Homo sapiens: one gene and its partners. The protein of the gene in region 7 interacts with the protein of the main gene of each other region in a biochemical or structural test. Each region holds a gene or a part of one and is shown on either strand. Other genes may lie near its edges. The genes, in order: RHPN1, MPDZ, DLG1, PARD3, TJP1, PDZRN3 and GHRHR.

What was found.
Region 1: the proteins of GHRHR (region 7) and RHPN1 interact in a test that uses a peptide from one of them, tested with the Homo sapiens proteins (one large-scale study listed by IntAct).
Region 2: the proteins of GHRHR (region 7) and MPDZ interact in a test that uses a peptide from one of them, tested with the Homo sapiens proteins (one large-scale study listed by IntAct).
Region 3: the proteins of GHRHR (region 7) and DLG1 interact in a test that uses a peptide from one of them, tested with the Homo sapiens proteins (one large-scale study listed by IntAct).
Region 4: the proteins of GHRHR (region 7) and PARD3 interact in a test that uses a peptide from one of them, tested with the Homo sapiens proteins (one large-scale study listed by IntAct).
Region 5: the proteins of GHRHR (region 7) and TJP1 interact in a test that uses a peptide from one of them, tested with the Homo sapiens proteins (one large-scale study listed by IntAct).
Region 6: the proteins of GHRHR (region 7) and PDZRN3 interact in a test that uses a peptide from one of them, tested with the Homo sapiens proteins (one large-scale study listed by IntAct).

The regions. Positions count from the first base shown.
Region 1 is NC_000008.11:143,375,376-143,378,875, reverse strand, and holds part of RHPN1 (rhophilin-1), read right to left. Parts: intron 3,324-3,500; coding exon 3,208-3,323; intron 2,352-3,207; coding exon 2,223-2,351; intron 1,497-2,222; coding exon 1,421-1,496; intron 608-1,420; coding exon 530-607; intron 181-529; coding exon 56-180; intron 1-55. UniProt on the Homo sapiens protein: Has no enzymatic activity. May serve as a target for Rho, and interact with some cytoskeletal component upon Rho binding or relay a Rho signal to other molecules.
Region 2 is NC_000009.12:13,108,693-13,112,192, forward strand, and holds part of MPDZ (multiple PDZ domain protein), read right to left. Parts: intron 3,455-3,500; coding exon 3,332-3,454; intron 2,049-3,331; coding exon 1,944-2,048; intron 1,373-1,943; coding exon 1,260-1,372; intron 368-1,259; coding exon 244-367; intron 1-243. UniProt on the Homo sapiens protein: Member of the NMDAR signaling complex that may play a role in control of AMPAR potentiation and synaptic plasticity in excitatory synapses. Promotes clustering of HT2RC at the cell surface.
Region 3 is NC_000003.12:197,047,113-197,050,612, forward strand, and holds part of DLG1 (disks large homolog 1), read right to left. Parts: intron 1-3,500. UniProt on the Homo sapiens protein: Essential multidomain scaffolding protein required for normal development. Recruits channels, receptors and signaling molecules to discrete plasma membrane domains in polarized cells.
Region 4 is NC_000010.11:34,357,297-34,360,796, reverse strand, and holds part of PARD3 (partitioning defective 3 homolog), read left to right. Parts: intron 1-537; coding exon 538-726; intron 727-1,479; coding exon 1,480-1,650; intron 1,651-3,500. UniProt on the Homo sapiens protein: Adapter protein involved in asymmetrical cell division and cell polarization processes. Seems to play a central role in the formation of epithelial tight junctions. Targets the phosphatase PTEN to cell junctions.
Region 5 is NC_000015.10:29,707,469-29,710,968, reverse strand, and holds part of TJP1 (tight junction protein 1), read left to right. Parts: coding exon 1-138; intron 139-1,932; coding exon 1,933-2,410; intron 2,411-3,500. UniProt on the Homo sapiens protein: TJP1, TJP2, and TJP3 are closely related scaffolding proteins that link tight junction (TJ) transmembrane proteins such as claudins, junctional adhesion molecules, and occludin to the actin cytoskeleton.
Region 6 is NC_000003.12:73,397,942-73,401,441, reverse strand, and holds part of PDZRN3 (E3 ubiquitin-protein ligase PDZRN3), read left to right. Parts: intron 1-432; coding exon 433-520; intron 521-3,500. UniProt on the Homo sapiens protein: E3 ubiquitin-protein ligase. Plays an important role in regulating the surface level of MUSK on myotubes. Mediates the ubiquitination of MUSK, promoting its endocytosis and lysosomal degradation. Might contribute to terminal myogenic differentiation.
Region 7 is NC_000007.14:30,973,953-30,976,990, reverse strand, and holds part of GHRHR (growth hormone-releasing hormone receptor precursor), read right to left. Parts: intron 3,007-3,038; coding exon 2,853-3,006; intron 2,563-2,852; coding exon 2,502-2,562; intron 2,021-2,501; coding exon 1,951-2,020; intron 1,215-1,950; coding exon 1,123-1,214; intron 563-1,122; coding exon 433-562; intron 1-432.

The DNA of each region.
Region 1 (3,500 bases), on a different chromosome or scaffold from region 7:
GTTCCCGCAGCTGGGCCTCCCCTCCCCAGGGTGCCTCCGCCCGCAGAGCCCCTACCAGTGGAAGAAGAGCCCGAGGCTCCTGGCAGGGGTGAGGAAGCGCGCATCCAGGAAGCACAGCTGGTTGTAATAGGCTGTGAGCAGCTCCAGGCCCGACTCATTCCGGCTGGGGGTCCGCATGGCCTGCAGGGCAGGAGCCACTGGGCCCCACCGCCCTGGCCCACCCCACTCACACACACTGCCCTGGGAAGTCCCATGGGCACCAGCACCATGGGGGGCGGGGAGGCAAAGCCAGTGGGGCCCTGGGCAGCCGTGACTCCCGAAGGCCAGCAGCATGCGGCACCGGAGCCACCTGGGAGCCCCTCCACGCCCCCTGGCTGGGTCTGGACACACAGGGCCCCTGGTGCGCCCGTCTCCCCACGTCCTCGAGATGTCTACGCTGAGCTCCTCTGTCTGTTCCTGACTTCAGCTTCAGCCTCCGCATGTGTCTCCCAGGGCTGCAGGAGGGTGGGTGGGCGGGGGAACCACACACCTGCCGCAGGGCCTCCAGCTCCCTGATTTCTGCCTCGTAGGAGGCGCCGTCCTCTCCAAAGTGCACTGAGATCAGCTCCTGATGGGGGGCAGGTGTTGGCATCCACAGTACCCCTGTGCCTGGCCTCCTTCCCTGAGGTCTCCCAACCCACCTTGGGAAAAGACTCATGGTGGAGGGAGGGTCTGTGCCGCAGAGCAGGCTGGCTGCCATGCAGCGTGGGGGCCCTGGGCCCCTCAGTGGAAGCCCCAGAGAAGGGCTGGGGGCCAATGTGTATGGAGGGGCCTGGTGGGTTGATGCGGGTCGGAGCCCCTGTGGCCCTGGGGTTTCCCCACCCCATCACAGAAGCGGGGCCTGGAGACTCAGCGCTACTTTTACGTGCGTTTCCTTATTCATCCCCGTGGCCGGGAGGCAGGTGCCATCTGCCACTCAGTGACTCGGACACGGAACACAGTCAGTGGCTCCCGTGGGGCCCTGCCAGGCAGTGCCAGTCTGTTCTAGCTCTCCCCAGGACCCTCGTGAGCCAGTGCTGGGTGTGTGGCCCCAAGCCAGTGGTGCCCTCCATGGGCGAGCCTGTACCCTGTGCTCCGGCTGGGGCTTCCAGGCCCCATCCTCCTAGGGCATTGCCCATCCGAGGGTAGGGCACATGTTCACACCCACTCTATGGGATCAGCCCCGGCCTGGGGCGCAGGCACCAGCGGGGCCCTGAACGCAGCAGAGGCTGGGTCCCTGTGGCCATTTCTGCCAGGTCCCTTGCGTCCCTTTTAAGCCTCCCTCCCTCTGGGCCTCAGTTTCCCTATCTGTTCAACCAGACAGCTGGACCAGAAAGCCTCCAAGACCCCCTTGGTCCCAGGGCAGGGCCGTGTATCTCAGAGCTTGGAGGCCAGTACCTACCTTCAGCGGTGTAGACCAGTCCAGCTCCTTGGTCTCCTTCAGGCCCAGGGGGATCATGGGGACAGTGACAGCTTCGCTGTAACCAGAAGCATCGACTTCAGACTGTAAGGCCAAACCCTGCTGCCCACGGCAGCCCGGGGTCCACTCCTAGGGCTCTGTGGCACAGGGTGCCTCCCTCCCTCATGGGTGTGCACGTGCGCCTGTGTCCTGGGGGGCATCCTTGCACCTGTGCACCACCCCCCACCGTCCTAAACCGCCCCAAAAGCAAACACACACACACAGAGACACACACATGCGCGCGCACACACACACACAAACACATGCGTGCATACACATGCAGACACACATGCGCACGCACACACATATATGCACACACGTGCAGACACACACACGCGCACACACAGACACACACAGACACACGTGCATACACGCACACATAGAGGCAAACACACACCCACATACACGCAGACATGCACACGCACGCAGACACGTGCACACAGACACACGCACAGAGATGCACACACAGACACATGCAGACACACAGACACACGCGCACACAGACGCATGCACACACATGCACACACATATACACACAGAGACACACGCACACACACAGAGATGCACAGACACATGCACACAGACACACGCGCACAGACATGCATGCACACACATGCACACACGCACACACACAGACAATGCACACATATACACACAGAGACACACATGCGTGCACACACATGCACACACACACGCACACGTGCACACACATACACGCACGTGCTGTCCCGGCCCCCACCCGCACCTCCCATGCCGGCCAGGGTCCACGCCACCGCTGAGCTCCTCCAGCTCCTCCTTCAGCAGCTGCAGGTTGGAGTTGACGTAGCTCAGCTCCAGGGCGACCGTCTCTCTCACCCGGTTGTTGCTGGTGGCTCTGAGGGAGGCCGCGGCAGTTGAAAGCCCAGCCCCAAGGCAGAGCCAAAGGCCCCGTGCCCACTGCAGCCGTCCTGCCAGCTGACCTGTCAAAGCTCCAAGCCCACCCTGCAGAGGACGTCGCTGACAGGGTCTGCCCCCCATGGGTGGGGCAGGGGCAGCAGTGGGATCCGGGGGCTCACAGGTGATGCCCCCTACAGTTCATCACCCCGACCCCAGCACCTGCATGTTCCGACTCTGGCCTGGGGGCACCTCCCTCAGCACCACGGCTTTCTTTGGGGCTCATACAGCCCTCGACAGCACTCAAACATCACTCCTTGGATGGTGGGTGAGAGCCACACACCTCTCTGTGCCTGCATCAGGGCCTGGCAAAGGGACCGGAGGTCCCCAGGGAAGGCCAGGATGGGGGCAGGGAGGTAGCAGGTGCTAAGGGGACCGAGGGGCACTCACACGCACATGTGTGGCACACAGGCGGTGTGCTCTAAGGAAGAGGCAGCCCAGGTCTTCCACCCCCTCCCAGGTCCCCAACCTTGGGACGCGCCATCACCTGCCACAGCTCAGCCTCAACCATGCCTCTTCTGAGAAGCCCCCACGTGCACTGTTGGGGCTTCCCAAGCTGCACACCCGGCAGGGACACTGGTTTCCTGGCACCTCCAGCCCAGCACAGAGGCCCACGGAGGCAGGTCTGTGAGGGTCATGGCTGAGCATCACGTGTACTACGTGCCCACCAGGACCCAGCTGCTCATGCACCTGTCTCTGTGACCCGGCCATGGGGCAGACATCTGCCTGCGTGGCTGTCCTGCCCCCCTCACCCAGGTGGGCCCTGCTCCCGGGGCCGGGCAGTCTCAAGCACTGACCTGTAGAGGTTCTCAGCGCCCGTCCGCATCTGCAGCTCCTTGTCAATCTGCTGGTGAATCTGGGCCCTGCGGCTCTGCAGCTGGCCGCACTGGATCTGCGTCAGGGAGTCACAGCCCTGCAGGGAGGCCACAGGCGATCACAGCCCGACCCCGTGGCGCCCGCACCAGGCTGCGCCTCGCCAGCCACTGAGAGGAGTGCATCCTGCCCATGGGTAACGGGATGGTCACCATGCGCTGGGGCTGGAGCTGGCCTCACAGGGAGGGGCTGGACAGAACTAGTGTGAACACAGGCC
Region 2 (3,500 bases), on a different chromosome or scaffold from region 7:
ATTTTTATGTATATTGTTGAGTTTCCATGGAGTTTCAATTTGAGCCTATTTTCCTTTAAATATAATGAAACCTCAAATTGGACAAAAATATTTAATGACCTGTTCCTGTAGGGAGTTTTGAAAAGAAATGATCAACTGTTAACCATTTGGCATTACCTCAGGCCATAAACTAATAAGCCAGCTGCTGACCACTATTAATGAATGTTTAGGGGAAAAGAGGGTGGTTAAAATTTGCAAGCTTACCTTTGCAAACACTGTTTTAACATAAATGGGTAAGTCTCCATGAGGGCTGCCATATCCTCCAACTATACTGAAGCCTAAGCCATCTGGTCCTCGCTCTAGTGTAATAGACTTACATTGAGGAGGTCTACGGTGAAGGAAAGGAAAAAGAGGTTTTAAATTAAAAAAAAAAAACTATACATATATGTTATGAATTATCTGACATCCACCTAGAGCTAGCATAATTCTCTTTGTTACTGACAAGGAGTATATTACGGGTATTTTTGAGATGCTTAAATTGTCAGTGCATGCTGTGCTTGGTATTTTAAATTTACATAATCTAATGAAATCCTACTTAACACCCTAATTCTATTACTCATTTACAGTTCCCTTAAACTAACATATTCATGGCATGTTCTCATTGTACAGAGAAGCTCATTCTTTTTCCAGTTTATTTAAAGTGAGAGGGCTAAAGTTCAGGGGACTATATTAGAATAAGTCATAAACATCAGTACGCCCAAGCTCAGAGAGAAAAATCAATTATAAGCAATGGAAAAGCTGCATCAAATTATTTAAAATTTCTAATGCGCCTCTCTCTTCTCCTCTGTTTTCCAATGCTTTTGTATCCAAGTATTGTTACTTAATACTGTGAATTTTTTCAGTCCAAATGATAATATATTAGATGAATAGGCAGTGCGGGAAATTTTAAAATGATAGATTTGACTTGCTCCATATTACATGAAGTGGTAACATCAAGACTAAAATGTCCTCCGCCCCAAAATCAGAGCTGAAACCATGGGAAGGGTAGTAGCACGCATATCTATCTAGCTAGTTATCTATCTCTACTTATCTTTGATCAGCTAAATCCATGCCACAATTATTTAAGTTTAGAAGCACCTGATATGTATAATTCACACTTCATATATCCTATCATTTTACCTGTACGTAATTCCTAGAAACATGGGACAGAGAACGCAACTGTCAGGAAGACTTGATTCATAAGTGAAAAATGATACACTAATCATCATGTATGAACTCACCCTAAATCATCCTGAAATATACTGCTTGACGTCAGCCCAGTGAAAGAAAGACTGGAACTTGCAGGCTCCTGCTGATGACCTGTGACCACACTCACGTCTCCTCCAGCAACCACCTGCGCACAGGAGGAGGATAAACAGAAAAAACACATGTTCCTGTGGCTAGGGAAAGTAATTTTTCTTCAGAAAGAGCACTTGGATTAAAATGTATATTTTATTGTTCATTTAAACATTTCTGTTAACATAAAATACAACCAAAGAGAATGAAATTTCACAAGGTCCAGAGGCTCTTAACTGTCCTGACAGTAAACATATTCTTCTAATTCTATTCTACAAAGTTCTTTGATGTTTTTAAAATGTGGTCTCATATGTAATTACTTTTTAAAGATCTTTAGAATATAAGCCACTTGCTAGCACCACTTAAAATTCCAGCAAATAATCATGTACTGCTAAGGCCTGGATTTTTTTCCCCTTAAAGTATAAAACAATCAATGCATCAGAGTAAAATGTTACAAAATATGTCTCATATGCACTTTATTGGAACTCTTAATTTAATCATTTATGTTCAAGAGAAATATTAAATAAAATAATAGCAGAAGATTTAATCATTTTTACTGCTTTAACATCAAAGCTCATGTGTCTTCAGGCTACCTATATTCTGAATTATGCTTGGGATAAAAATCTTACCTGCATTTCAATGGAGCCAGATGCATTTTTCAGTAGGTTAACTGCTTGGGTGTGAGTCATGCCCTCAGTGGATGTGCCACAGATGGTGACAATCCTATCCCCAACCTGCAAGGGAGAGAAAGAAACAGCCATCTGCTAAAGCAGCCATGGAGAGTGGGTCTTTGAGACCTAAGTATTCATTTCCTTCTCCACCTTCCACATGACATATATACTGCTACCAGCCACTGAAATATAACCAAGGAAACCACTAATTCCAAGAAGTCCAAAAAGCAGCAACCACAAAAAGAAGCAGTGCATAATGGTTGAGTTCCATATCCAGGGGAGAGGGAGGGAGAAGGAGAAAGTCACTCTTCCCTGCTCTTCATTTCTCTTGGGTGAGACATTACTTCCTATTAAAAGAAAAAAAAATTCACTATCATTTGGAAACTGAAATTTCTCTGGACATTACTATTATAATCATTAGATGTGACTCTAAGTCGGAGGTTGGCAAACTAAGGCCCAGAGGCCAAATTTGGCCCACTGCCTGTTTTGGTTAATAAAGTCTGGTTGGAAGACAGCCATGCTTATTTGGCTGCTTTCACAGCGCAGAGTTGAGTAGTTGCAACAGAGACTCACAGGTCCCACAAAGCCTAAAATATTCAGTATCTGTCCTTCCAGAAGTTTACTGACCCTGTGCTATGTATACAATCAGGTTTTAAGTGTCAGCCATAAATTTGGATATCAAACGAGGCTGAACCATTCCCAGCCTAAAGACTATTTAAACTAAAATGTGGTTATGTTCTGAGACCTATTTGAGGTATGAAACCATAGAGATTTTGCTTTAGAGAGACTGAGTTGCGTTAATGGAATATTCATGTAATTTTTAGAGCTGGGCAGTTGGCATAAATTCCATTGCAATGCTCCACAATTTGGATAATCCCTCAGCTTTGAGGCAAGTTGCATATAGTTTTATAACATTGTAAGTCATATTTATATTAAACTTCTGCAAAATTATCAGTGAATGCAAATAAGTAATACTTTTCAATTTAACAGAGTTAAATCGGCGTTTAAACCAATCAAATATATAAGATAAAAATTTCACTTCATACTGGTGTTCTGAAAATACTTTCTGTTCTCTTTTAGCTTGTTCCACAGAATTTCAACATATAAAAATATGTATTAGGAAACAACTATAAATCTTCCTATTTAACTGCAAATCTGCATTTTCTCCTTTCTTTTAATATTCTTTATCTTTTATTCCAAGCAAGCCTTGCTGTGGTTGGATTAGATGATTTAAAAGTAAATATAGATATTTAAAACTGCCTTGCAACAGGTAGCCAGGTTCAAAGGTTTATAAAAACACTTCTGCACATTTTGCTAGGGCTTCTAGGGTTGATAGTACGACTCACTCTGAGTTTTTGGGTCTGTGCTGCAACTCCAGTTGGGTGCATCATTGCAATAAATATAGGCACATCACCAAGTGGGCTGCCTACTCCTCCAGCGATGCTGATTCCCAGTGAGTCAGTAGGGCCCTGCCATGGAACAGATATAAAATTTTGGTCAAAGTGATATTTTTCA
Region 3 (3,500 bases), on a different chromosome or scaffold from region 7:
GATTAGAAGAATAGTGAAATACTAATAAGATCTATAGTTAGATGAGACATATAATTATTAAATTTCCTGATTTTGATAATAAAACTATGATTCTATAAGGGAATATCCCTGTTTTTTAGAAAATACACACTGAAATATTTAGAAGTAAAGGGACATCTACCTGAAACTTACTCTCAAGTGTATCAGAAAAAAACCTATAAATGTGGTAAAATGTTAACACTTGAGGAATTTGGGTGAAGGGTACATGAAACTCCCTGTACTATTCTTGTAACTTCTATTTAAGTCTGAAATTAGTTTGAAAAAAATAAGAAAGCACAAGGTTTAAAAACCATGACCCTTACTGATACTCAGTGTGAATGTCAAATTTAGGCTGATATTATTTCAAACAAACAAGTAACAACAACAAAAATGTCCAAAGACTTGAGGAGGAAGTTAAAGGACAAGGCGAGTAAAATAAGAATATTGGGGAGTTGCTACCTACTTTTTTTTTTTTTAAACAAATAGTATTTCAAAACGGATCAAAGGGCAACTAATCATTAAAAAGGGGCCAAGACTACACAATAGGGAAAGGCTAGTGTCTTAAATAAATGGTGCTGGAAAATCTGGATATCCACATGCAAGAGAACGAAACTAAACCCTTATCTTATACAAAATTAACTTGAAATAGACTAAAGACTTAAATGTAAAACCAGAACCATAAAACTCCTAGAAGAAAACACAGGGAAAAAAGCGCCTTCACACTGGTCTTGGATGATTTTTTGGAAAGCACAGGCAGCAAAATAAAAAATCATCAAGTGGGATATTAAATAAAAAATCTACACAGCAAAGGAACAATCAACAAAATGAAAAGGCAACCTATGGAAGAGGAGAAAATATTTCCAAACATGCAATTGGTAAGGGGTTAATATCCAAAATATATAAGAAAATCATTAGCAAAATACCAAATAATCCATTTAAAAAATGGGCAAAGGACTGGAATCGACATTTTTCCAAAGAAGACATACAGATGGCCAGCAGGTATCAGTAAAAGTGCTCAACCTCATTAATCAGAGCAACAGAAACCAAAACCATAATGAGGCTGGGTGCAGTGGCTCACGCCTGCCATCCTAACACTTTGGGAGGCTGAGACGGGCAGATCACTTGAGGCCAGGAGTTTGAGACCAGTCTGACCAACATGGCAAAACCCTGTCTCTACTAAAAATACAAAAATTAGCCGGGTGTGGTGGCATGTGCCTGTAATCCCAGCTATTCAGGAGGCTGAGGCATGAGAATCGCTTGAACCCAGGAGGCAGAGGTTGCAGTGAGCTGAGATCATGCCACTGTACTCCAGCCTGGGTGACAGAGCAAGACTCTGTCACAAACACACACGCAAACCATAATGAAATATCACCTTAGACCTGTGTGGATGGCTGTTATCAAAAAGATAAGAGATAACAAGTAGGCAATGGTATGAAGAAAAGGGAACCCTGTACACTGTTGGTGGGAATGTAAATGAGTAAAGCCATCACAGAAAATAGTGTGGACATTCCTCAAGAAATTATTATTACTATTATTATTTTTGAGACAGAGTTTCACTCTTGTTGCCCAGGCTGGAGTGCAATTGTGCGATCTTGGCTCACTGCAACCTCCGCTTCCCAGGTTCAAGCAATTCTCCTGCCTCAACCTTCCAAGTAGTTGGGATTACAGGCATGCACCACCACGCCCGGCTAATTTTGTATTTTTAGTAGAGAAAAGGGGTTTCGCCATGTTGGTCAGGCTGGTCTCGGACTCCTGACCTCAGGGGACCTGCCCACCTGGGCCTCCAAAAATGCTGGGATTACAGGCATGAACCACTGTGCCCAGCCACCTCAAAAAATTAAAAACTGAGTTATTATATGATCTAGCAATCCCACTACTCGATATATATACAAAGGAAAGGAAATTGGGCCAGGCGTGGTGGCTCACACCTGTAATTCCAGCACTCTGGGAGGCTGAAGCAGGCGGATCACTTGAGGTCAGGAGTTTGAGACCAGCACGGCCAACCCTGTAACCCTGTCTCTACTAAAAATACAAAAATTAGCTGGGTGTGGTGGCATGTGCCTCTAGTCCCTGCTACTTGGGAGGCTAAGGCAGGAGAATCAACAGAACCCAGGAGGCGATGGTTGCAGCAAGCTGAGATCACACCCGCATTCCAGCCTGGACAACAGAGTGAGACTCTGTCTCAAAACAAAACAATAAAAAACAAAAAGCCAACAACAACAAAAAGAAAACCAAAGGAAAATAAATCAGTATGTTGAAATCTGCACTCCTATGTTCACTGCAACATAATCAACAATAGCCCAGATATGAAAATCACCTAAGAGTCTGTCAAAAGATGAATGAGCCGGGCCCGATGGCTCACGCCTGTAGTCCCGGCACTTTGGGAGGCCAAGGCGGGCGGATCACCTGAGGTCAAGAGTTCGACTAGCCTGACCAACATGGGGAAACCCCATCTCTACTAAAAATACAAAATTAGCTGGGCATGGTGGCACATGCCTGTAATCCCAGCTACTCAGGAGGCTGAGGCAGGAGAATCGCTTGAACCCGGGAGGTTGTGGTGAGCTGAGATCATGCCATTGCACTCCAGCCTGGGCAGCAAGAGCAAAACTCCATCTCCAAAAACAAAAAAGATGAATGAATAAAGAGAATATTGTAGGCCAGGTGCAGTGCACCTATAATCCAAGCACTCTGGGAGGCCGAGGAAGAACGATTGCTTGAGCCTAGGAGTTTGAGACCAGCCTAGGCAACATAGCGAGACCCTGTCTCTACAAAAATAAAAAATTAGCCAGGTGTGGTGTTGCACGCCTGTAGTCCCAGCTACTAAGGAAGCTGAAGAGAGAGAATTGCTTGAGCCCAGGAGGTTGAGGCTGCAGTGAGCCATGATCATGACACTGTACTCCAGCCTGGGCAAGAACAAAACCCTGCCTCAAAAACAAACAAACAAAACCAAAAACAGGCCGGGCACGGTGGCTCACGCCTGTAATCCCAGCAATTTGGGAGGCCGAGTCGGGTGGATCACGAGGTCAGGAGATCAAGACCGTCCTGGCTAACATGGTGAAACCCCATCTCTACTAAAAATACAAAAAATTAGCTGGGCGTGGTGGCAGCTGCCTGTAGTCCCAGCTACTCGGGAGGCTGAGGCAGGAGAATGGCGTGAACACGGAAGGCGGAGGTTGCAGTGAGCCGAGATTGCGCCACTGCACTCCAGCCTGGGCGACAGAGCCAGACTCCATTTCAAAAAAAAACAACAACAAAAAAAACCCCCAAAAAAACCCAACAACAAACAACAACAAATATATATATATATGTATGTATGTATGCATGCATATGGTATATATACAACAATGGAATATTTTATTAGGCCATAAAAATGAAAATCCTATCATCTGCAACAACCAACATGAGTGAATGTGGAGGACCTTATGCTATATGAAATAAGCCAGACACAGAAAAGCAAATACTGTATTTCATTTATACGTGGA
Region 4 (3,500 bases), on a different chromosome or scaffold from region 7:
TGTTGATGTTAGAATTCTTTAGAGGCTCTCTGAACCCATATACCTTTTTCTGCTGATTTTGTATGATCAGGATTTGTTATTTTTTGTGAATAAACACCATTAGTGAACATTAAATATATTGATAACTTCAGAATTTCCTCATAAAAAGGGAGATAAATGAATTATATTTATTTATTTTTACTCCCATTGTTACTGTTTTTCTTGTCGTTTAGAATATATGATTACACCAAAAAAATCCCGAACTCTAGAAATCTACTAGTCTTTAGTCCTTCCACTACATTTTCCCTCTATCTTTCTCAAATCTGATTTAAGTTTGGTTCAATATTGAATAATTGCTACATAAAAATATTAACAGCTGGTTCCAAGAATCTTCTGGAGTGGGTGCAGATGTAGTGTTTTCATGGATCTTGCTGTGGAACCTTCATGGAAATATTTTGCCTCTTATGATTAAGGAACTGCTCATTAGCAGTCTTTAAAAATAACTTTGAGAAAGAAACATTGGACTATAATGTGCTGTGCAATTTTGTTCCCTATTAGAAAGCAGAAGATGAGGATATTGTTCTTACACCTGATGGCACCAGGGAATTTCTGACATTTGAAGTCCCACTTAATGATTCAGGATCTGCAGGCCTTGGTGTCAGTGTCAAAGGTAACCGGTCAAAAGAGAACCACGCAGATTTGGGAATCTTTGTCAAGTCCATTATTAATGGAGGAGCAGCATCTAAAGTGAGTGTCAACTTTATCATGCGTATGCCTATTAACAAAAATTTTAATTTCAACCCTGTTCCTATTTTGGAAACATATACAGTTAACAGAAGTTTTCTCATTTCTTTATGGTACCCACATTCACATTTAAACAACTAGGTGTATCAGTGATGTGTCACGTGGGGATGGAGTCCATAACTTCAACCTTTCATTTTTTCTCTCACAGAACATACAACCCATTGACATGCTAGTTAAATGAAGTTAATCAATGCAAAGACTTGGCATAGGTCCTGTCACAGAATGGGCGTATAGTAGACGTTAATCTTTCCCCTCCCCTCCCCTGTTTGTGGGTCACTTACTCTATTTCTCAGCCTAGAGAAAATTTCCTGGCCATTTGTTAAGGGGACAGTTCTCTGCAACTGTCTAATAGCCTTGAGCTTTTACATGTCTTGGTTTCTAAATAACCTCTATGGGTGTTTCTGGAAGCAAGAAAGTAATCACTTTGTGTCCTTTGAATTAGTATGCTATTTTGGTAAACAGATTATGATAATGACTTGATTTACAAATGTATAAATGATTGAAATAGACACAGGCTACAATAGCTGCTTAGACGTTATTATGCCAGCGTTCAATTGGGCATAATCCATTAGGATTAAAGCTCCCCACTTTTTTTTTTTTTGCTTTGTTTTTATTTTATTTATTAACTAAAGGAAAAGCTACTTCTTTTATAGCAGTCTGTTTAATAGCACTTATTTTTACCTGTTTTCTTCCCAGGATGGAAGGCTTCGGGTGAATGATCAACTGATAGCAGTAAATGGAGAATCCCTGTTGGGCAAGACAAACCAAGATGCCATGGAAACCCTAAGAAGGTCTATGTCTACTGAAGGCAATAAACGAGGAATGATCCAGCTTATTGTTGCAAGGAGAATAAGCAAGTGCAATGAGGTAAGAAATGCAAAAAAGTGCTAGTATCTAAAATTGTAAATAAACTACATTTCTGTCCTAATTTTGGGCAAAGGGTATTAGGTTCCAGGACCTTACATCAAAAGACCATAAATTATCTTTGCTTATTGTAGTTTTATTATTTTGTAGGTGGATTGTGGTTTGTGTTCTTAATTCTTGTGATCAACATATTCCTAAGTGGACATTAATACTCCTATTGCCAACTCAGCAGGAAACACTGGGATCTCAAAAGCCCCTTTAGCTGAATTTTTTCTTGAAATCAGGGTCACATCTTCCTTCTCAGAGCCAACAGTTTCTCTTCTAGTTGGCAGAGTTATACCTGGGAGGTGAATCATGCAGAGAAACAGTTGCTTATTCATTTATTTAAAATGGGATGCCTCTTACAAAGCCCCTAGTAGGGAACAGTCTTTCCTTCCCTGTCCTTTCTTTTTTATTTGAGACAGGATCTCACTGTGTTGACCATGCTGGAGTTCAGTGTTGTGGTCACAGCTCGCTGCAGCCTCCATCTTCTGGGCTCAAGGGATTCTCCTGCCTCAGTCTGCCAAAGTCCTGGGATTACAGGCACGCGCCATAGCACCTGGCCCACAGTCTGGCTTTCTTAGATGATGGTGTTCTCTTGTGAGATTATCAATAGCATATACCTCCCTCTCTTTCCTCAGTCCCCATTTTCTCTTTCTCTATGGGATTGAGTCTGTTCTCTTAGAATGCCTCCTTTTTCAGTGATCTGTATTGTATTATACTCTGCTTGTTCTAAATGTATGTTGCAGTTTGGAATTAGGGGTGAGGAGGACACAGGGCATCCTCTCTTGAAAGGTAGGATCATCTATTTTCCCAAATATGGAAAAACATACTTTGTTGTATAATAGGACATTTGAAAGTTAAAAATAAATTATATGTTGCCTTGATAATATTGGAGCTTGAAAAAAGCTAAATTTCATGGATCCATTATAAATTATGTGCCAACTGTAGAAAATAGGTCAGACTTGCCCATGTGCAAAATGAGCTGTTGAAAATGTGAAGTTTTTCTTAAATCAATGTTCAGATTCCCACATTTTAAGATCAAATCAACTAAGATAAAATGATTAGCAAATAATACAAACTGAAAATTATACCTAAGTTGTTTAAGAGTTTTTCTTAATTTTTAAACTTCTGTTTAATAAACACATAAAGCACCGTTTTCAGGTTGCAGTGACCACTCATCTGAACCTATGATACAAGCATATTTTACAGAGAAAATATACTCTCGAGCTCAGTTGGTAGTCAATATAGAGGTGACGTATTCTGAAAGATCACTGACCACTGAATTATTTTGTTGTTTTTATTTGCCAAATGTAGAATGAGTTAACAGTAATCAACAAATTAATTGCGATATCAAGAGAACAACATAACCTTAACTAAAAAATCTCAGAGTGGAGAAGAGTGGGACATACAAACATTCATTTATGTAAGATAAATATAAAAGCTAATCCCTCACAGTAGGATGCTGGACTGATATTTTTTTCTCTTTTCCGTCCCTCCTGGACTGATTGAATAGTAGTTTTTACTCATTGCAAAATCATTAGCTGATCTTTTAACTTAAGTCCCACAAAGCACTATATGAAAACATCTCAACTGTAAGTTTACAAAACATATCATTCTCTTTTAGGCCTTTTTATTTTGGCCACCTGAATACTTTCCCATTACACAGGACAGTTTTCATTCCACAGATATTTATTGAGCATCTTATGTGTATCAGAAAATGTGTTAGATCCTGAGGACATAGCAGTGAATAAGACAGATGGCATGCATTCTACTGGACAACGTATCACCTTAGTCTTTTAGAGACCAATTAA
Region 5 (3,500 bases), on a different chromosome or scaffold from region 7:
GATCATTTGGCGAGAAACGCTATGAACCCATCCAGGCCACTCCCCCTCCTCCTCCATTGCCCTCGCAGTATGCCCAGCCATCTCAGCCTGTCACCAGCGCGTCTCTCCACATACATTCTAAGGGAGCACATGGTGAAGGTAGGAAGTTCGGAAGTAGACATTTTAACACAGTAATGCTTATGAAGTAAAATTCTGGTGGTTTCTAGGCAAAATGGTTTTTACATTAAAAAATACATGCTTGAAACCTTTGGGCTGGGAACAGTAAAAACTAAGAATTTTGTTAAAAGTATGTCTCCTGTTTTTACAAGACCATTATTTTGGACAAGCCTTTTAGCTAAACAGATTTTAATCTATTTTATGCTAGTCTCTAAATCTTCTGGAAGTAGTGTTTGCCAGTATATGTAAAGATGGTTTGTAAAACCTACTATGTTTTATCTCACACACCCAAATAGAAAAGCCATAATGTTTCATATAAAATGTATCCCATACACCTTGACTTTTGCATTTACATACCAGGTAGATCACATATAGCTCCAGATTATTCATCTTAAGAGCTTTGTAACATTTTACCCTCAGCATATAACACAAAGTGGTTATCTCTTCTGCTGTGGACAGGCATTTTCCTAGCACAGACTTCTCTTATTATTCCCTTAGGAGGCACCTCCTTGGGCTTGTGAGTCTTCAAGCAGATGTGTTATAGTTCTGGATTGAGGCTATCTTTTATTAAGATTTTTTTTCACACATGCCCATGTTTACAGATAAAGACAGTTTTAATTCTTACTTTCCAGTCCTTATGCCTTTTCTCTTTTTTTTTTTCCTCTTTTTGAGACGAAGCCTTGCTCTCGCCCAGGCTACAGTGCAGTGGCGCAGTCTCAGCTCACTGCAACCTCTGCCTCTCGGGTTCAGGTGATTCTCCTGCCTCAGCCTCCTGAGTAGCTGGGACTATAGGCGCACACCACCACGCCCGGCTAATTTTTGTATTTTTTGTAGAGACAGGGTTTCATCATGTTAGCCAGGCTGGTCACGAACTCCTGACCTCAGGTGATCCGCCCACCTCGGCCTCTCAAGAGTGCTGGGATTACAGGCATGAGCCACCGCACCTAGCCTTCTTTCTTTTCTTGCTGATTGCACTGGCCAGGACCTCCAATAAACTCTGAAATGTAAGTGGTGAAATTGGACCTCTTTTGCTAGTTCCTGATTTTAAGGAGGAAGGACCTCATGTTTTATCCTTTAGAATGTTAGCTCTAGGATTTTCGTAGATGTCCTTTATCATGTTTAAGACATTCCCTATATTCAGAGTTTGCTGAAAGCAGTCAGATGTTTTTCCTGCATGTATTAAGATGACCATATGATTTTTCTTCTCGTACTGTGGAAAATTATATTACTATATTCATGAGGTATTTGGATTAATAATTCTCCTGTCTTGTAGTGTCCTTAATTATTTCACAGAGTTCAGTTGGTACTGTGTTACACTGTGGCTGGCAGTGCATAAAAAATCCTGTGGTTCCACTTTTTAACCAATGTTTGGCATCATCAGACTTTTCGGTTTTTCCATTCTAGTGGGTGTGAAATAGTATTTAATGCTTTTTGTTGGTTTTGTTTTACATTTTTCTAATTAATAGTGAGTATCCTTATTATATGATTATTGGGCATTCTAGTTTTCACAAAGACTAGTGCCAATCTTTGGAGGCCAGGAATCTTAGCAGCTGGACCCTGACTCCAGGGCAGCAGGGTATATATATTCATGGCACCACCTGTCCATGCTGCCCTCATCCCTCAGCATCACACCTAGCCTCCAGGGCTCAAGAGTCAGGCTCTGGCTGTGCGACCCACATTTGGGCCTCGACTCCAGCACCAGGACAAGTTAAGCTGGGACAGGGCTATTATAACTTTTTTCAGAAAGTTATTTAAATGCTTACGTTTGTTTTTCAGGTAATTCAGTGTCATTGGATTTTCAGAATTCCTTAGTGTCCAAACCAGACCCACCTCCATCTCAGAATAAGCCAGCAACTTTCAGACCACCAAACCGAGAAGATACTGCTCAGGCAGCTTTCTATCCCCAGAAAAGTTTTCCAGATAAAGCCCCAGTTAATGGAACTGAACAGACTCAGAAAACAGTCACTCCAGCATACAATCGATTCACACCAAAACCATATACAAGTTCTGCCCGACCATTTGAACGCAAGTTTGAAAGTCCTAAATTCAATCACAATCTTCTGCCAAGTGAAACTGCACATAAACCTGACTTGTCTTCAAAAACTCCCACTTCTCCAAAAACTCTTGTGAAATCGCACAGTTTGGCACAGCCTCCTGAGTTTGACAGTGGAGTTGAAACTTTCTCTATCCATGCAGAGAAGCCTAAATATCAAATAAATAATATCAGCACAGTGCCTAAAGCTATTCCTGTGAGGTAAGACTTATGCCTTTGCTCAAAGCATTGGCCCTGTGATTTTTCTCATGTGAGTTTGTTGTAGTTTATTTGACTTGGGACTTTAAAGTGATCTTTTTAACTCAACCTTTAAACTGAAGAGTGTTGTTGCAATGAATGCTGTTACATAGAAGGTCCTCCAGGAGGTACAAGATGTTGGTAAAATAATAAAGCTAACAGTCGTGTATGGTTGGTAGGTATTGTCATCATCCCTGTTTTACTAAGAACTGAGGTTGAGTGACAGTAAGCAGTTTGCCCAGGGTCACAGCTAGAGTGAGGTGAGCCTCAATTTAGCTGCTGGTCATCCGACCTCTGAGCCCATGCTTTTTTTTTTTTTTTTTTTTGAGACAAGAGTCTCCCTCTGTCGCCCAGGCTGGAGTGCAGTGGTGCGATCTTGGTTCACTGCAACCTCCACCCCCTGGGTTCAGGCAATTCTCCTGCCTCAGCCTCCTAAGTAGCTGGGACTACAGGTGTGTGCCACCACGCCTGGCTAAATTTTTTGTATTTTTAGTAGAGGTTTTCACCATGTTGGCCAGACTGGTTTTGAACTTCTGATCTCAAGTGATCCATCCGCCTCCACCTCCCAAAGTGTTAGGATTACAGGCGTGAGCCACTGCACCCAGCCAGGAGCCCATACTCTTAACCAGCCATGACCTTTTGTAACCTCCTGACCTACTGGTAAGGTGCATGTGGAGGACATCTAAAAACATTAAGTATCTATGTTCCTCATTCATTATTTGTTCCACAATGATGCTAAGAAGAAAAATAGAATAACCTCTGACTGTTTAAAGAGCAGCAGTTAGTGAGATGGCTGAGCAAATGAGACAAAGTGAGCCCACCTGGAGCCTCCCTGCAGCTCCTCTTTCCTGTCTTTCATTCCACGGCGATTGACCAGATGGATTCTGGCCATACATAAAAGCTCATCTCAGCCTCCTACAGCCAGTTCCATTTTCACGCCACCATAAAGCAGAAGCACTTGCAGGCAGGGAGAACCAAAGGTCAGGATGGCCACCTGAGTCTGCTTTCCAAGAGAAAGGATGGTTATGGCGGTCACTGCCTTCCTAGCTCTGCA
Region 6 (3,500 bases), on a different chromosome or scaffold from region 7:
GATCTCAGAGGCCAGCACATATCTTAGACTGTTGCCTGGGCTCGAGCCTAGTTCTCTGCAGAGATAAAATCTAACAATGAAGCAATAAGCAGTAAAATATTGTCCTGTTTCCTGCGTAGAGATGGAGTTAGAAATCAGTCACGCTGAATCACGTGACTGGCAGGCTCCGGGATGGGCTCTGCAAACAACAAAGCCCATCAGGCTTGCACTTTGCATCTTAAGTCCTTCAGGAGGAAATGTACTAAAGGCAAATGGTAAAATTAGGATGATGGAGGTCCTGACCGTGCTGAGAGCCCCATCCAGAGGGAAGTGAGTCATGAAAGGGCCCACACCCTGGGAATTGCTACTGTGCCACTGGCCTGACAATGGGTGTAAGAAAAACAGATACTGACAACGGAAGAAGGGCTGTAAAGATGTTGCATCTCTTTTCAGGCATCCCTCAGCCCATGAATACTACGATCCAAATGACTACATTGGAGACATCCATCAGGAGATGGACAGGGAGGAGCTGGAGCTGGAGGTATGAAGAACATCCTTGTCTCATTTTAGGAGTCATTATTAAGAACACAGAATGCCTAATAAGTTCTCTATAAGCATAAATTAGTTTACGGATGCCGATGGAAAGTAACAAAAGCAGAACCACTTTTACTGATGCCCTTTGAAAGGCACAACTGAGATTCTTCTTCCTTCCTTGGAAACAGAGCTTAATAATCAAGTCCCAAAAGCAGAAATGTAAACTTTTTTTAATTTGAATCACTTAAAAGTTAGGACAGTAAATCCTGTTGTCAACCTTTGAATCCACATAATCCATACATTCTTGTAACTAACATAAGCCTCCTCACCTTCCTCCCTTTTATGTCATCACCACTCTTTACTCAAAGGCAGATGGCTCAAGAGTAGGTGGATAAATTACTTGAGTGAATGCTAGCCCGCCCTAACAAAAGGGTTTGTTCACTGCTTCACTTGCTTCAAGTTTGCTAACATTGATACAGAAGAAATTAAACAAGTCTGCAACTCTTCTTAAGTGTTATTTGAGGCCACACAGGAATAAAGATTCAAGATGCTACATAATGTCAAATAGGTCTCTGTTAAGGTTTAAAATATTTAGAGGACACCAGGTTGCCAACAGAGTTCTACTTCCCATTTTCCTTTTATTAAGGGTGATAGAAAATACAGAAAACACTAACTTGTATAATATATTTATATTTTGGGGAAAACACTTTTATATTTCAATGGGGTTTCAAAAAATATAACAGCATTTTTGAAAGCTGATTTTATGGAATAAGGTAAAAAGACACCTGATGTTGACAGGTAAGCCCTTGGGTACCATCAAAAGGTCACCCAGGAAAAATCGAACATTTTATCCAATTTCATGGCTAACTGTTGTGTAATCTATGCTGTCCTACCAATACTTCTGAAGTTGAATTGTTCAGTGGCAGTAGGTTCTGTGCAAGGACAGAAGCAGTCAAATAGTAGAAAACAGCTATGTTCCTCAACTTAAAGTTACCAAGAGTTCTCATTCCAAGACAGAAGTTAAAAATCAATAATTGTGTGCAAACGATGACTTCACTGATGGTTAGCCAGATACAGTCAAATCAAAGGACTTGTTGCCAGTGGCATGACTGACTCTGTGCCAGTTTTCAGAAATTTAAAATTTTCCCTAAATGCACCTGGTCTAAACAGCAATGGCCAGTATTCTCACTATAAAAACTTGACTGTTTCTGCTTGCTGTCAGCCACTTACCAAAGCGCTTGCCATTTAACAATTGTTCCAGAAAATGTAGTTTTGTCATTTTCAAAAATCAGGATTCTGCCTCTTATTTAGTGTCCTATCACCCCAGCTTCAGGGCTGTTTGGTGAAGCAGCCGTGACTCCTTCAGGACACTTGTTCCTTAATTTGTTATGTATGTTCCTTCCAAAGGGGGTTCATAATGAAATACATTTGGGAAATGCCAGACTGAAGACAACGAAACAGATTTCTTGGAGGACTTCTGAGAATCTTGACTATCTACCTAGAATCCCCTGGGGGAGTGGGCAGAATTTCCCCCACCTCTCTGGCCAAGTACCTGTTTATATTTCCTCAGTCTACAGTTCTCTGGAACACTGTTGGAGAAACACTGCTCTCCAAACAGAGGGCTATTTCGTAATCTTTATGGGACGACACTGCTTTTTGATGATGTAATTGTGGCAAAGTAGAGTTCTTTTAAAAAGCTGTAAAGTGTTTCAGAAGCTAGAGTTATGAAGTAGTAGAGACTTTGTAGTCTTTGGTATTTAGTTAAACTTGACTTTGTAGCAGTGGGTTCTTTAGTTCTTTTTTTAGTTTCTAATACCTTTGAGAATCTGATGGAACCTACAGCCCCCCGCTCTGGAAAAATGCTCCTGTCTGTGAGAGCTTGCATATGGTTTCAGGAGATTCACTGAGCCCCCACAGTATCTGCCCAATTTGGGCCATTCTGCCTTACAGTTTTTCCTTATACCTGACTATCACCAGAACTCTTACGTGCTTTCTATTTCTCTTTAATTCGACTCAACTTATTTAAACTACGGTAATTTTATTTTAAAGGAAACACTATACCACTGCGTCAAGCAGAAAGTCAGCATCCATTGCCTTAAATAGAAAATCCCATACAATTAAATACAGTGGACACAAGCCAGTGTTATTTATTAAATCCTGGTGCTCAATAAGGGTGCCTGCTGAGGGTTGGGAGCCTGGGGCCACTACATCCTGCCTTTTCTCTAAGGAGATTAGCTAGTATTAAAGAAGTGTTAAGACTAGCCCAGACTGAGTCTTTCTCCTCAAAGCATGAAGCACCTGAGAGCATCCTGCTTTCAGCAGGAGGGAGCCACTCAGAAACTGTTCCCTAGAACCCTGTTGTTCAAAGTGTGGTAGGAGGACCAGCAGCCTGGCTGGTCAAAGTAGAGTTCTCACCTAGGAGATGTGGGAACTACAGAAACTTGGCCCCCTAGATCTTCAGAATCAGAATCTGCACTTTAACAAGGTTCCTAGGTACCTCGGTGCCCATTAAAGCCAGAGGACCCCTGACCTACAGGCCACAGACCCAGATAAAGCAGCCCAAGCTATCATTTCCTCTTGTTCTCTTGAGTCACACCAGCGAGGCTTTTGTGGTGCCTTTCATTCACTGCAGTGTCGAGATGTGCCGCCAAGTCACGAATATTGTCCACACTGTCCCTGCAGTGTAACATTATCAGGGCCTAGGAACGACTGAGCCCCTCGTAGGCATGTGACACTGTGTTCCTAAGACTGCTTCTCTCTTTTCATGAATAAAAGCAGACACAACGCAGGTGTTTAGAAAACTAGTCTGGTATTAATATTTTAAGCTAGACCTTGGATGCCATCAGACTTTATATTCGTGTTTATTTTCAATTCTGTTCATTTTATTGTCTCTTACATTAAATATACTGTTTGGCCCTAGAAATGCAAAATCACGAAGTCACCACTCTGCCTGCCCTTAAGGAGCTCACAAGCCATTAGGACCATTA
Region 7 (3,038 bases):
AGTTGAATAGATTGGATGGATGGGTGGATGGATGGATAGATGGATGGATAGATGAGTGGGTGGGTGGATGGATGTATAGATGGGTGGGTGGGTGGATGAATGGGTGGGTGGATGGGTGGGTGGGTAGGTGGTTAGGTGAGTGGATGGATGGATGGATGGATGGGTTGGTGGGTGGGTAGATGGATGTATGGATGGATGGATGGATGCACGGATGGATGGATGGATGCATGGATGGATGGATGGATGGAAGAATGCATGGGTAGTTGAATACGTAGATGGGTGGCTGGAAGATGGACAGACAGACAGATATTTGAATAGATGGATGAAAAACATAGCCCTCACCCTGTCATGAACTCAGCCAAGGCCCGTGGGCAACAGCACCTCCCTCCAGCACCCTCAATGGAAAGAAAGAGTGCCTGTGGGGGCCCTCACCTGGAAGGAACCCAGTCCCAGCTCCAGGGGGAGGCGGATGCCCAGGCCAGCATTGTCTGGCAGGAAGTTGAAGATGATGTAGTGAATTCCAAAGAGTGGGATCAGGAAAAGTGTCGACTTGGAGAGACGCCTGCAGGAAAGACAAATCCTAGGCTCCCAAGACTGGGATTAGAAACTGTCGTGTGCACTTCATCTCCTCTCACTTCCTACCACCTCCCTATATCCACTCTGTGGAACAGCCACCTTGGGAAACGCCACCTCCCCACAATCACTCTGGGCTTTTTTATTTCTGGGCGCTGGATCCTGCTGATTCCCCTACCAACTGTTATTGCCCCAGTTTATCCCAAAGTCTATGCATCTTTCAAAGTGTGGATCAAAACCACTTCCTCCAGGAAGTCTTCCTTGACCACACCACCCTTCAACTAGAAAGGATCCCTCTCCCCAGGCTCCCATAGAAATTGATCCCAGCACTCATCGTTCTATTTGGCATGGGAGCTGGCTGTTTGGAGTCCTCATCCTTCCAATATTGTGATCCCCTAGAAGGAAGGGGCCAGGTCTATTCTGTCTCTGGGAACATAGGGAAGAAAGAGTATGGGGCTGAGGTCATGAGTGCTTATTGGATGAGACAGACACATTGAATCCCCCTCCAGTTACCCTTTCCCAGTATCCCCAGACACAAACACACAGTACCAATACTGAGACTGGGTATGGAGGCTGCCCTGAGCTGGCTCCAGTTTCCTCACCAGGATGCGGATAATATTGAGAAAAAGCCCAAAGTTCACCTGGAAATAGAGGCATAGGAAGGTGGAAGACAAGGGTCAGGGGGTAGCCTTGGGTGGCTGGGGTGAGCCCCAGCCCATTTGGGGACTAGAAAATTTAAATCCTTGAGACGTGAGAATGTGCAGGTGAATGAATGCACAGATCATTGCTCCAGAACTGGTAGCCTGGAGATGGGGGGGCGGGGGTCCCACATTTGAGCATTGGACAGAGAAGGACCAAGTCCTGGGATCAAGGGGGGCGATCAGGCCTTGCCACCTGCCTCCAGCCACCTCCCAGGCTCTTCTCTAGCACAAAGCAGATGTCCCTCACTTTGCACAGTTGCTAAGTTGCAAAACATTTGTACATTTACCAAAGCCATGCAAAGCAGTCTTCACTGCCTCTGTGTTGTGTGTGAGAGCAGAGGGAGGAGAGGGGTTTAGCTGCAGACTCCATTTACTGCCCCCACCCGGCACCCCTAGTCTCTCACTGTGGTGGTAAATGATCTGCAACCAGCACATTAGGCTCATCAAAATTGAGCTGGAACAGCCTGCATGCTGATGGAGACCACCACCCCTCTAGTTTTACCAATGGGATACTGAGGCCCAGAGAGGGCCTCACAGAGAATCAGTGGCAGAGCAAGGCTGGAGCCCAGTTTTCAAGACACCCAGCCTGGAGTTGCATTTCCTGCTGTGCACAGCCCGTCAGTAGTTCCAGGGAAGTTGACTGAATAAAGCAAAGGGCACTGGCCCAGGGACTGACCCCGACCGAGAGGACAATGGGCCCTTTGATGATCCACCAGTAGGGGGAGGTGTCGTCCAGGTCCCAGCACCTGGGGAGAGAGGAAAGAAGGCCGTTGTTGGAAAGTCCCCTTCACTGTGGTGACGCAGGCACCTCCCTCTCAGGCATTCATGCCTTCTGGTCTCACCCACCTCCCCTCCAGCCTTTTCTCCTGTCTCAGCCAGTTAAGGTCTCACCCAAAGGGGCACCCCAATCCAGGCTGGGCTCACCCTTTCTATCCACCTAGATGGACAAACGTTTCTGAACTCTGTTCAATGCCTCCTTGCTGGCCCCCTGGCAGCTCCCTCACCCCACCTTCCCCCAGCCCCACAGCCCTGGGAATCTGAGCTCCACTCTCCTGCCTGGCTCATGCCCCTTCTGTGCTACTCACAGACTGTTCTCCCACCCCCCATCCTAGCCGGGCAGTCCCTTCTCCTCCTCTTCCCAGCCTGGAGAACAGCCCATGGCCTGACTGTCCACTCCACACCCCATGTAGGACCAGCGGGTATGACAAGGTGGCCGCTCCGACTCACGCGATGTCCTCGAAGGCCAGTTTGCAGCTCACCCACGTGCCAGTGAAGAGCACGGGCAGCCCTACAGGAGTACAGGGAAGACACAAGCGAGGGAGTCTGCATCCTTGACTCTGAGATCTGGCGCCACCTCCCACCACCACCATCAGCCACGTAGGGCACTGCAAAGGCAGGGCCAGGCAGGACCCCAGAGCCAGGGCCCTGGTCCCACCCTCCAACACTTGCTGCCGGACTGTGGCCTGTCCCTCTCCTTCTCTGGGCCTCAGAGTGAGGTGGAGGGGCCTTTATGTAAACTCCCTGGGCCTTTCCAGCCCTTTACCTCCCCATGGTGCCCAACCCGCCCTCAGTGCTCACCCCAGCCAGCGAGAACCAGCCACCAGAAGGCTCTCCTTGAGCTGGGGGAGGTGGAGGCCAGGAGGCAGTTCAGGTAGACGGCTTCTGCCAACAGCCAGCTGAAGTTGGTCATGGTGGCGAAATGGGAGGCGGCCACAGAGACCTTGCATAGAACCTGGGGGCCAGGACCTGGGTGCTTCAGAGCTG